2 separate regions of the Homo sapiens genome follow, and region 2 is linked to region 1. The links come from fine-mapping of genetic effects on gene expression. A gene starts in region 1. The other region holds a variant in brackets. All regions are shown on one strand. Distances are between the middles of the regions. Region 1 holds the start of BAG1 (BAG cochaperone 1). Region 2 overlaps AQP7 (aquaporin 7).

The links. PIP is the estimated chance that this variant, and not a neighbour inherited with it, causes the effect. A credible set is the group of variants that fine-mapping cannot tell apart.
Region 2: its variant is the best candidate, but not a certain one, in a credible set for the expression of BAG1 in B cells (Fairfax 2012, PIP 0.57).

What each region holds. Positions count from the first base shown.
Region 1 is chr9:33,262,138-33,267,451 of GRCh38, forward strand. It overlaps BAG1 (BAG cochaperone 1), which reads right to left and starts at 2,571. Exons shown (of 7, transcript NM_004323.6): 1 at 2,087-2,571; 2 at 565-693. The coding sequence starts at 2,537. CHMP5 (charged multivesicular body protein 5) reads left to right here and starts at 2,912. Exons shown (of 8, transcript NM_016410.6): 1 at 2,912-3,010; 2 at 3,873-3,977. The coding sequence starts at 2,942. RefSeq lists enhancers at 1,580-1,629, 1,760-2,349, 2,880-3,119 and a silencer at 2,380-2,699.
Region 2 is chr9:33,381,391-33,386,760 of GRCh38, forward strand. It overlaps AQP7 (aquaporin 7), which reads right to left. Exons shown (of 8, transcript NM_001170.3): 5 at 5,014-5,151; 6 at 4,687-4,805; 7 at 4,259-4,476; 8 at 1,801-3,900. The coding sequence ends at 3,615. LOC124902142 (a long non-coding RNA gene) reads left to right here. Exons shown (of 2, transcript XR_007061462.1): 2 at 401-824. Among named protein-coding and RNA genes, the nearest start is that of AQP7, 18 kb to the right of the region's middle. RefSeq lists enhancers at 1-413, 1,982-2,482, 2,483-2,983, 4,475-5,370. The variant T/C (reference allele first, on the strand shown) is at 3,070.

The DNA of each region.
Region 1 (5,314 bases):
AAAATGGTGAGATTTCTGCCATCATCATAAGACTTCAAATCTGACACCTGTCCAGGTGTTTGAGAGTGTCCAATACCTAGCAGGTCCTCAATAAATATCTGTTGAAGAACTGAATGAATAAACAAATAAATAAAAATTGTCCCAGTTTGAAAACAGAGTGACTATTAGGAAAAGTTCAGCAGTTTTAAAACTGTCCTTTGGCCATAAGGAAAAGCCGGAAAAGAAATGCTTACCCTTGGCCAGGTGCAGTGGCTCACACCTGTAATCCCAGCACTTTGGGAGGCCGAGGCGGGTGGATCACCTGAGATCAGGAGTTCGAGACCAGCCTGGCCAACATGGTGAAACCCTGTCTCTACTAAAAATACAAAAATTAGCCGGGCATGGTGGTATGCACCTGTAATCCCAGCTACTTGAGAGGCTGAGGCAGGAGAATCACTTGAATCCGGGAGGCGGAGGTTGCAGTGAGCCTAGATCGTGCCATTGCACTCCAGCCTGGGCGACAAGAGTGAAACTTCGTCTCAAAAAAAAAAAAAGAAAAAGAAAGAAAGAAAAAGAAATGCTTACCCTTAAATATGAGTTTCTGAAAAGACTGTGGAACCCCTATGACCTCTTCAACAACCTGGGCCAGGTCTTGGACAACTGGTTCACTGCTGCCCTGCTGGGAGGTAACATGAAGGTCGTGCTTCTCATTGCCTGGGGAGAAAGAAAAGCATTTGACGAATATGATTCTTTCACATACACCAATATAGGATGACACTTTATCACATTTATTTACCCAGCCTTCAAGGCCCAGCTCATATGCCACCTACTCCACAGAGCCTGCCCCCATGCCACCCAGCTTTCCTCTGGTGACCTCCTCAAGTATCTCTGTTTCCTCTATTATAATAACTAACAATATGAATGATATCTGCTAACATTTTAAGCATTTCATGCATAATCTAATTTAATCCTCAGATAAACCCCACGAAGTAGATCTACCTATTACTTCTTATTTCACAGATGAGCAAACTGTGACTTCAGGCAAGTTAAGGACTGCCTATGGAGACTCAACTGTTGGAATCAGAAGTTGATATCAGATCTAGCTGATTCCCAAGCCCACCTTTTTCATCACAAGCCATCTGCTTCCTGTGGCTTGACTGCCCTGTACCCTGTATTGTATTGGTCTCGTCTCGCTTGCTGTAATGGGCAAGTGACTGTTTTCCTCCAAGTCTCTCCCACTGAACACACTTGAGTGCATCCATGATTTGTGCTAAGTAAACAGACAAATGCATACGAACAGCAGAGCCTTTCTTTCTGAAGAAGAGACGCCAATTCTTTTCCAGGGATGCGGACAGCAAGGAGGGAGCCTGTGTACAGTACATTACACCAAGGTTTGGTTCCCCCAACAGCTCCGTGAGGTCAGCAGGAGCCAGGGTTACCAAATCTACTTCACAGAGGAGAAACCGGATTCTTAGAAGAAGCCGTCCATCCCAAGGTCACTCAAAACCGCAGGATCTAGAATCCAGGTCTCCAGATTCCCAGACCCTTGGGCCTCCCCTAGCTGGTTCTAGAGAAACCTCATGGACTCAGCTCTCCGGTGTACTGACTTCATTTGGTGGTGTGTCAACTCCAACAGTAGGCAGACCCAAAGGGTGCCCAGAGTACAACGCTTGGACCCACGGCCAACTCAAGCGGCGCACACGGAGAAGGCACTCAGCACACGAGGAGCACCCCGGCATGCACGAAGTTCTGACTTATCACACACGGAGCAGTCGTAGACCACATGGCCCAATATATGCCTGACACAAAGGGCACAATAACTGCGCGGGCACACAAACACAACCAGGCCCACGACGTAAAGCACGGAGAAGCTCAAACACCCAGGATCGCACAAATGACCAGAGACAAAATACACCGGCCACATGGAAAAGTGTACAGACACAAGCCCGGGACAAAAGACAGTTCCACGGACACAACCAATAACCCACGCTTCCGGACGCCAGGACAAGCGCAAGGTCACACGCTTCTGGAGGACACGTGACTAAACCCACAGACCCCGCCGGGCTTTCGGGACCTGCATGGAGCCCACCTGGCGCCCGACACTCACTGTGGGTGACAGTCACGGTGAGCCCAGCTGCCGCCATTTCCTCCCTGGTCACCTCCTCGCTCCGGGTCGACTCCTCGTCCCGGGTCACCTCCTGGCTCCGATTCATCTCTTCGCCCTGGGTCGCCTCCTCACTCTGGGTCGCCTCTTCACTCCAGGTCGCTTCCTCACTCAGGGTCAACTCCTCGCTCCGGGTCAACTCCTCGCTCCGGGTCGAGCGGCGCCGGGTTTTCTTCTTCATCCGCGGCCTGCGAGCGCCGGCGGCGGCGCCCCTGGTGGGTCGGTCATGCCCGCTGGCAGTACTCCGGGCAGGTGGACGCCCAGAGGGAGGCGGACCACGCTGGGCCGGGGGCTCCGACTGGCGCGGCTCCCGGCCTGGCCGAAGGGCGCGCAGCCGGGAACCCAGCCGCTCCCGGTCGCCTCGCGGTCTCCGCGCCCCCCCGCGCTGAGCCAGGCCCGCACTTGTTGACCGCCCAGCGATGGAAGCTGAGCGCGGCGTCTCACAACCCCGCCCGACTACTTCCCAGCCCCGCCCCGGCCTGCCGGCCCCGCCCTCGCCCTATGCCGCGTTAGTTGCCTCCAGGCCCCACCCACTCAACTGAGGCCCCGCCTTGCTACAGTAAAACCCCTCCCACTCCTTCTACCAACACCCCGCCCCCTGCAGGCTCTCTCCGAGAGCACCAAGTCCTTTTGCTCTCCATCCCCGGAAGACCCGGCTGAAAATCCGGAAAAAGAATCGGGAAACGCCAGGAGGCATATTGCGCTTGCGCACGGAGGGGCCGGAAGTCGAGGCGGGAGTGACTCTGCTTCCGTTTCTGGTTTTGCTCTAGTGTTTGGGTTTCTTCGCGGCTGCTCAAGATGAACCGACTCTTCGGGAAAGCGAAACCCAAGGCTCCGCCGCCCAGCCTGACTGACTGCATTGGCACGGTGGGCATTTGATCATGCATAAGTAGGCTCAGGACCTCTGACACACCCGACCCCGCCCACCCCCAGCCCCGGGCCCATATTCTTCCACTTCATTTCGGGTCCTGGGCCCCTTACACGTCGTCCCTCTCTATCTCACCTTCTCCCCTTCATCCCTGTTACCCAAGTCATTCCTAACGCCACAAACCAGGGAACCCCTAACCCCATCACTGCCTTGCCCTGCCAGCACCCAACCCGTTTTGATGCCCATTGCCCGTCCACTCGCTCTCGCCTTGATCCTCTCACCTCACCCAGCCCTAGGCCCATACACCCTTCCCACCTCATCCTGCCTGATCCCTTACCCTTCTTCCATCTGTCATCCCCAGTCCACATCAGGACTCAGCTTGATATCCTAGGTCAACATATCTGTGCCTTCGTCCTGGATCTCAGTAACACAAAACTCAGAACCCTAGCCCCTCAGATTAAGCCACCATCCCCGATTTAGGGAATGGCATTAGATCTACAATCAGCTGGTTTCACTTGGCACTGGCCCATTTCATGTGCCTCTTGGAGGAACTCTCAGCCTGGCTAGTCTCTGATTCTAGGGAAATTCCAACTCAACTCAGTGATTCTCAAATTATTTTCTGCCCCAACCCACTTGAAGGCTACCTGGTATATCAGAATCGGGGCAGTGTGGCGGGGGGTAAGAGAATAATTTATAAAGCCCAGGGTTTCTGGTTGGGAATACCCTTCTTTGTGAACCACTGTTTTTCACCCTTCCCCTTAAGCTCCTCTTTTCTTCCTCTGTATTCCTTCCTCTCTACCTGCCCCTTCTGGAATAAGTGTATTGCAGTAACTACCAGTGCATTTGATATTTTCCCCTAAGGTGGACAGTAGAGCAGAATCCATTGACAAGAAGATTTCTCGATTGGATGCTGAGCTAGTGAAGTATAAGGATCAGATCAAGAAGATGAGAGAGGGTCCTGCAAAGGTAAGGTGGGCAGCAACTGCTGCACAAGGTGCTGGCAGAGCCTAGTTTTAGCACCTATAGAAATAGGGCCTAGTTCGGCTGGGCGCAGTGGCTCATGCATGTAATCCCAGCACTTTGGGAGGCTGAGGCGGGTGGATCACGAGGTCAGGCATTTGAGACTAGCCTGGCCAACATAGCGAAACCCTGTCTCTACTGAAAATACAAAAACTTAGCTGGGCATGGTGGCAGGCGCCTGTAATCCCAGCTACTCAGGAGGCTGAGGCAGGAGAATCGCTTGAACCTGGGAGGCGGAGGTTGCAGTGAGCAGAGACCACACCATAGCACTCTAGCCCAAGTGACAGTGTGAGACTCCGTCTCAAAAAATAAGTGAAATAGGACCTAGTGCAGGGGCTGTGAGCATCCCTACAGAAGAGATGCTTACAGTCTGGTAAGGAGAAAACATGTGAGGGTGTATCCTTTAGGGAGGAGAGTTTGCAATCAAATATGGAAGGGAGGCTGGGGATTGATCTGGTGGAAAGAGATGCTGGTCACACGTCTAAAAGCATGTACATGAGAATTAGCATATTATACTGAGAAGGTGGTAATCTGGAGAGGAAGACTAGGCTGTGCTCAAGATCAATGACTTGCTAAGCTGGTCAGGTTAGGTTGGTATATTAGACTGCTTAAGGAGTGGCCTGCTGGGAAAAACTGAACTAGGCATCTGGGACCAGTGTTCTAATACACTGTCACTGCCTTCTAGTTGTGACCTTGATAAAGTCACTTATTTTCCACTCCTGTTAGGTAGAAACATAAAATACTGTGTTTAAGCACATGGACTGTGGATATAGAACTACCTTGTTTTTTCCAGATCCATAACTTATTAACCATGTGAGCCTGGGTATCACTGAACCTCTCTTTCCCCATCTGTAAAACAGAGATAATACCCACCTTACAGTATGAGGATTAAATGAGGTAATTGATGTGACCTGTGTACCACTATGTCTAGGATAAAGTAGTACTCAGTAAATATGAGTTATGATCATCTGTGAAGTAATAATACCTGTTTTTCCTTCCTCACTGGAGAAGACAAATAAAATGATCTACAGAATTCTATAGAAAAGGAAGGCTTTTCCCAGCCATCTTAGTGGATGGTGTGGAATGAAGAGCAACCAGAGGTAGGAAAGCCCATTTAGATTTGAGACAATGAAAGCCCAAACCATGGTGGTAGGAAACCAAAGAATCAGTTTGAAAGTGAGTTCTGAAATCAGCTAACAGGATGACTGTGCATGAAGAAACAACAGAAAGAGGAAAGATAAGGTTGATAAAAAGGTTTTCAACCTAGAGAGGTGAGAGATTGG
Region 2 (5,370 bases), 120 kb after region 1:
GACAGAGGAGGGTAGGAACCAGAACCCTGGGCCCCGTATATGCCTCTCTAAGCTGTAACTGAGGCCTTGGGACCATGCTGCTCTGGAATGCCAACAATGAGAAAGGCTCACAGGGCCACTGAGCGTGAGAGGGGGGAAGGGGCTTGTAGAAGGTTACCGAGGAAGGCTACTGTACAGCTGGGGACTTCCAGCTGTGGGCCCTTCCCTGGTCACTCCCAGCCCTGGTTCCCCTGGCTCGGCTCCTCCCACCGTGGGACGTCAGATACAGTCATCCTCCCTGGATTCCCTGTGATCTCACCAGGCTCCCACCTGTTACCCCTCCCCTCCCCCTGGCGCCCCCCACTCCGCCCCCCAACTCCGCCGTCCTCACACTACAGCTATTCCTTCTTTGTGTTTTTAGATATACCTACATACTGGCCAGGCGGTGGAGCTCACGCCTGTAATCCTAACAATTTAGGAGGCGGAAGCGGGTGGATCACCTGAGGTCAAGAGTTTGAGACCAGCCTGGCCAACATGGCGAAACCTGGTCTCTACTAAAAATACAAAAATTAGCCAGGCGTGGTGGCGCATGCCTGTAATCCCAGCTACTTGAAAGGCTGAGGAAGGAGAATTGCTTGAACCCAGGAGGCAGAGGTTTCAGTGAGCCGAGATCACACCACTGGCACTCCAGCCTGCATGACGGGAGAGAGACTCCATAAAAAAAAAAAATATATATATATATATATATATATATAATATATATATCTCATACAAACAATATGTATCACATTTATATGTTATCAAGCACGATCATGTAATAAACCCGCAAATGTCCAAACCCAAAACTAGAAAATTATTAATAGTTTGTACTACTCCTGTGTTCCTCTCCATCTGCCTGTAGGAATTATTTCTTTTTCTAAAATAGTTTTCTTACATACATATATATAGCAAAGAATGTATTTTTGCTTATTTTTCAGCTACAAGACTGGTGTCACACTGTATATAGTCTACTGTATTACTTTGTTGTTGTTTTTTTTGAGGCACAGTCTCACTCTGTCACCCAAGCTGGAGTGCGGTGGCACAATCTCCATTCACTGCAACCTCCGCCTCCCGTGTTCAAGGGATTCTCTCCTGCCTCAGCCTTTTGAGTAGCTGGGATTACAGGTGCCCAACTACACCAGGCTCTTTTTTTTTTTTTTTTTTTGAGACCGAGTCTAGCTCTGTCGCCAGGCTGGAATGCAGTGATGCAATCTTGGCTCACTGCAACCTCCGCCTCCCAGGTTCAAGCAGTTCTCCCGCCTCAACCTCCCGAGTAGCTGGGACTACAGGTGTGTGCCACAACACCCAGATAATTTTTGTATTTTTAGTAGAGACAGGGTTTCACCATGTTGGCCAGGATGGTCTCGATCTCTTGACCTCGTGATCCACCCGCCTTGGCCTCCCAAAGTGCTGGGATTACAGGCGTGAACCACCACGCCCGGCTACTGTATTACCTTTTATGCCTCCAGAATTTTTCTGTGTTGTTGCAGGTGTCTGTTGTGCCTTAATTTTTGCTATTGTAGAGGGTTCTATTATGTGCAATTGCGCAGCAGTGTATGTATCTGTTCCCCTGTGGATGGACATTTGGGTTGTGTCCAGTGTCTCTTGACCACCTACCTTGTGCCATGCCCCCAACCCTCCTGTCATTACTCCACAATCTAGCTACATCCACAAAGCCATGACTTCACGAAACCCTGTCTTCCGCTTCTGAGCTCCAGACCATATAAAAGGCATAACTGTGTTTATTGAGCACTTACTCTGAGCCAGAAATGATTCTCAACATTTTACATGTGGTAGCGCATTTAATATTCACAGCAACACAAATGGGAAGTAATATTCTTATCGCCATTTTACAAATAAGAAGACCAAGGCCCAGAAGGGTTGAATATCTTGCTCAAGATCACACACATTTTGCCACCCCCCATTCCAAGTCCCATAGGCAACTCAGACTCAGCATGTCCATGATGTAACTTATCTTCCTCTCCAAACCATTTCCTCACTTGTGCCCTACTCTCAGTGGGGACATCTCCAATCCCCAGGCCCAAGCTGGAAACCGGAAGCCATTTCTGACTCCTCCCTCTCCCTCACCCACTCCATCCAAATGGAACCCAAGTCCTGTACATTGTACTTCTCCGGTATTGATCAATCCCCGCTCTCGTCTCCACGCCCACGGTGCTGACCCATTGTTAGGTGCCCGGCTGCTGCTCCTGGGTCATCACTTTCGCAGGCCCATCTCCACCATTTCCAGCATCCTACACACTGCGGCTCAGGTGTGCTTTCTAAACCTCACCTCACCGTGTCCCCACCTCCAGAACGAAGCCCAGCCTCCTCTGCCCATCCCCTCAAACTGTAAAGTGCAGCTCCCACCCCCAAAAAGGACACCCCCCACCACCATACCCTGCTCTGTCTCCTCCTCTGGGAAGCCTCCTGGCCTTGGCCCAGAGGCTGGATGTGAGCTCCCCTACCCCGAGCCCCACAGCCTCCAAGCCTCCCACTCTGCACTCACCTTCTTCCATATAATTACCTGTCCCCCATTAAACTGCAACCCTCAAAGGCAGAGCCCAGCGCATCCACTGCGCATCCCCAGTGTCCAGGCAGGGCCTGCACACAGTAGATGCACAATAATTATTGAAAGGCAAAATGCATGAGCAAGGACAGGAACCATGGGTGATGCTGCCTTCTGAGCCCCAGGCAACAGAGTGATTCCTGCCTGGCCCCAGGGTCAGTGGATCCTGGCCCCTCACCCCACCCAACCTCTGCACCTGCTTCCCTGGAGCCCTTGGAGCCCTATGAGGCCTCTTCCTGTGTCTTCATGTGGTCGAAGGATTTCCCTCTTTGCATCTTCCTTTCCTATTCCTTCATGTGGGAGCACTCTGGCACCAGGAAGAAGAAAGAGGAGCCCAACCCCTTAACAGCCTTCAATCTATAACAAGCATTCTCAAGGGAATTAAAACTGATTCTTAAAAGGGGAGGTGAAAAAAAAATCTTACTCTTTTTTATGTATAAAGCACAGAACATATACAGAACATAAACAGATATATAGTACATCTG[T/C]GGTATTAAAATTTCATGTGATTAAGAAAAAAAAAATCTAGAAGAATACTAGGGAAGGAACTAATGAAAAAAAGGCTAAAAAATTCTGATCTACATTCTTGGGCCTTGCCTTGTCTGGTCCAAGAACCGGCCAGAACTCAGGGAAGGGAAGAACCAGGGGAGAGTCTAGAGTCCAATCTCAGGATCCCCTCAAAGTATTTCCAAAGCCGGCCCCCAACCAGTCAGCTACGGTCTGTTCCCCAAAACCACCCTTCCTTCCCCCGTGCCTGAAAATCCCTCATTCTGTCGTTCTTTCATCTCACCCTGTTCCTACTGAGGGCGCAGGTCATCTCTTCCCCATTCTCCCCCTGGGGCACCCCAGTTCCCAGGGCATGAAAGACTTGAGGTGCCTCACCTCTACACCTTGGGCTAAGACATAGCCCTGGAGCTCCTGTAAGAACCCAGGAGGGAAGCCCAACCACAGGAGGCCCCCAGGAAGTGGGGGTACTGCTGTCGGACAAGCCTTGCTTTATTGGGGAATGGATGGGATCACAAATAATCTCTGCTTAGAAGTGCTCTAGGGCCATGGATTCATGTAAGGGTGGGGCAGGGTGGACTGAAGATCTGTTGGCAGGGCTCACAGAGACGGGGGTGAGGGGAGAGATCGTGGGTTCATGAGATCCCATCTTGGGCAATACGGTTATCCCGTGGTCTTCATACGCCACAGAATCCTCCAATTTCAGGGGCTCCCGTGGGATGGTGGAGCCAATGAAGACCAGGTAGATGATGCCACCTAGATAGGCACCCAGAAGTGGTGCCACCACTGGCACCCACCACCAGTTCTCCCCATTGCTGCAGGCAAGAGGCAGAGGCCTGCTGAGGGGGCTGATGCCCAGGACAGCACCCTCATCCACCTCGGGCCAAGACAGGTTGAGCAGAGGAGTCATCCCCAGGCTACCCCAGGAAACACCCCCAACCCAGGGCCCTGGTCAGCCTCAGCCCAATTCAGGGACAGCGTTGACACTCAGTGCAGGTGCAGGATCTGTATCTGTACTGGCCTGGGGAAATGTTGGGACTCACTCCTGCTCCCCAGGCTACCTGGGGGCTCAGCAGGACCCTCCTGTGCTGCCCCTCACATCACCCCCCACCCCTCAACACACAGGGGACCCACAGAAAAACTCAAAGGAATGGGCCTGGGCAGGGGCAGTACCTGAAGACCTGTTTGCCCCAACCAGCAATGAAGGTGAAGATGCGGGGGGGCAGGTCCCGGGACGGGTTGATGGCATATCCTGTGTTCATGCCAAGGGACACCCCGATGATGACCACGAGGATGCCTATCACCAGCGCCTCTGTTCCTGGCAGTGCTGGGTTGTTCTCCTGGTCCGTGATGGCGAAGAGACACAGCTGGAGCATCCCGGTCAGCCACGCCTGAGGAGCAGATGCTGTGGCAGCTCACCTGGGCCCCTCCCCAAGCCACAGGACCTCGGCAGTGCCCCAGACCCAAGCCCACCAGCAGAGACACGTCTCGGTACAGTCTCCATCCAGAGTTCTTGTCCTGTCTATCCGGAGGGACTCCCTGCTGGCTCCGTCCTGAGGGGTGGAGGGCAGGGGGAGGGATACTCATCCTCGACCACTGACCTCATTCAGGAAGCCCCGCCACAATGTCATGTGATCAGGAAGGTAGGTGGCAAAAATGCCAGCTGTAGCGACGGGACCGGTCACCATCAGCTGTCCACCCGAAAAGTGGAGAATGGCCGCTGCGGAGACACAGACTGTCATGCGAACCTGCTCCCAACTAAGCCCCACCGGGGTCCCAGAAATGAGGTTATAGGTTAGAGGGTGGGGGATCTCCAAGGCTTTTTTCTCCCAGCTATTTTTTACAAATCAGGACACTGAGGTCCAATCTGCCCATATTTCATAGGAGGCGGCTGAGGCCAGAGGCGGACACCCGGGCAGGATACTCACTGTAGAAGAGACTGTAGATGGTGGCAGCCGCCAGGAAGGAGCCCAGGAACTGCCCCAGCACATAGACCGGAAACTTCCTCCAGGGCACGCGGCCCAGCGCACAGTTAGCAAAGGTCACAGCTGCGTTCATGTGGGCTCCTGCGGGCAGCAGGCAAGTGTGTCAGGGAGTGAGAGCAGAACAAACAACAGTGACAAACAGTATGAGAACAACGATGGCTAGTGTGTATGACAGCATGCTCCGTGACAGAGCTCTCTCCTTGAGCCCTCACAACCACCCCGTGAGGCAGGGGCCACCATCTTCGTTTCACTCTCAAGGAAACTGAGGAACACAGAGGCGATGGCTTGCCTAAGATGACC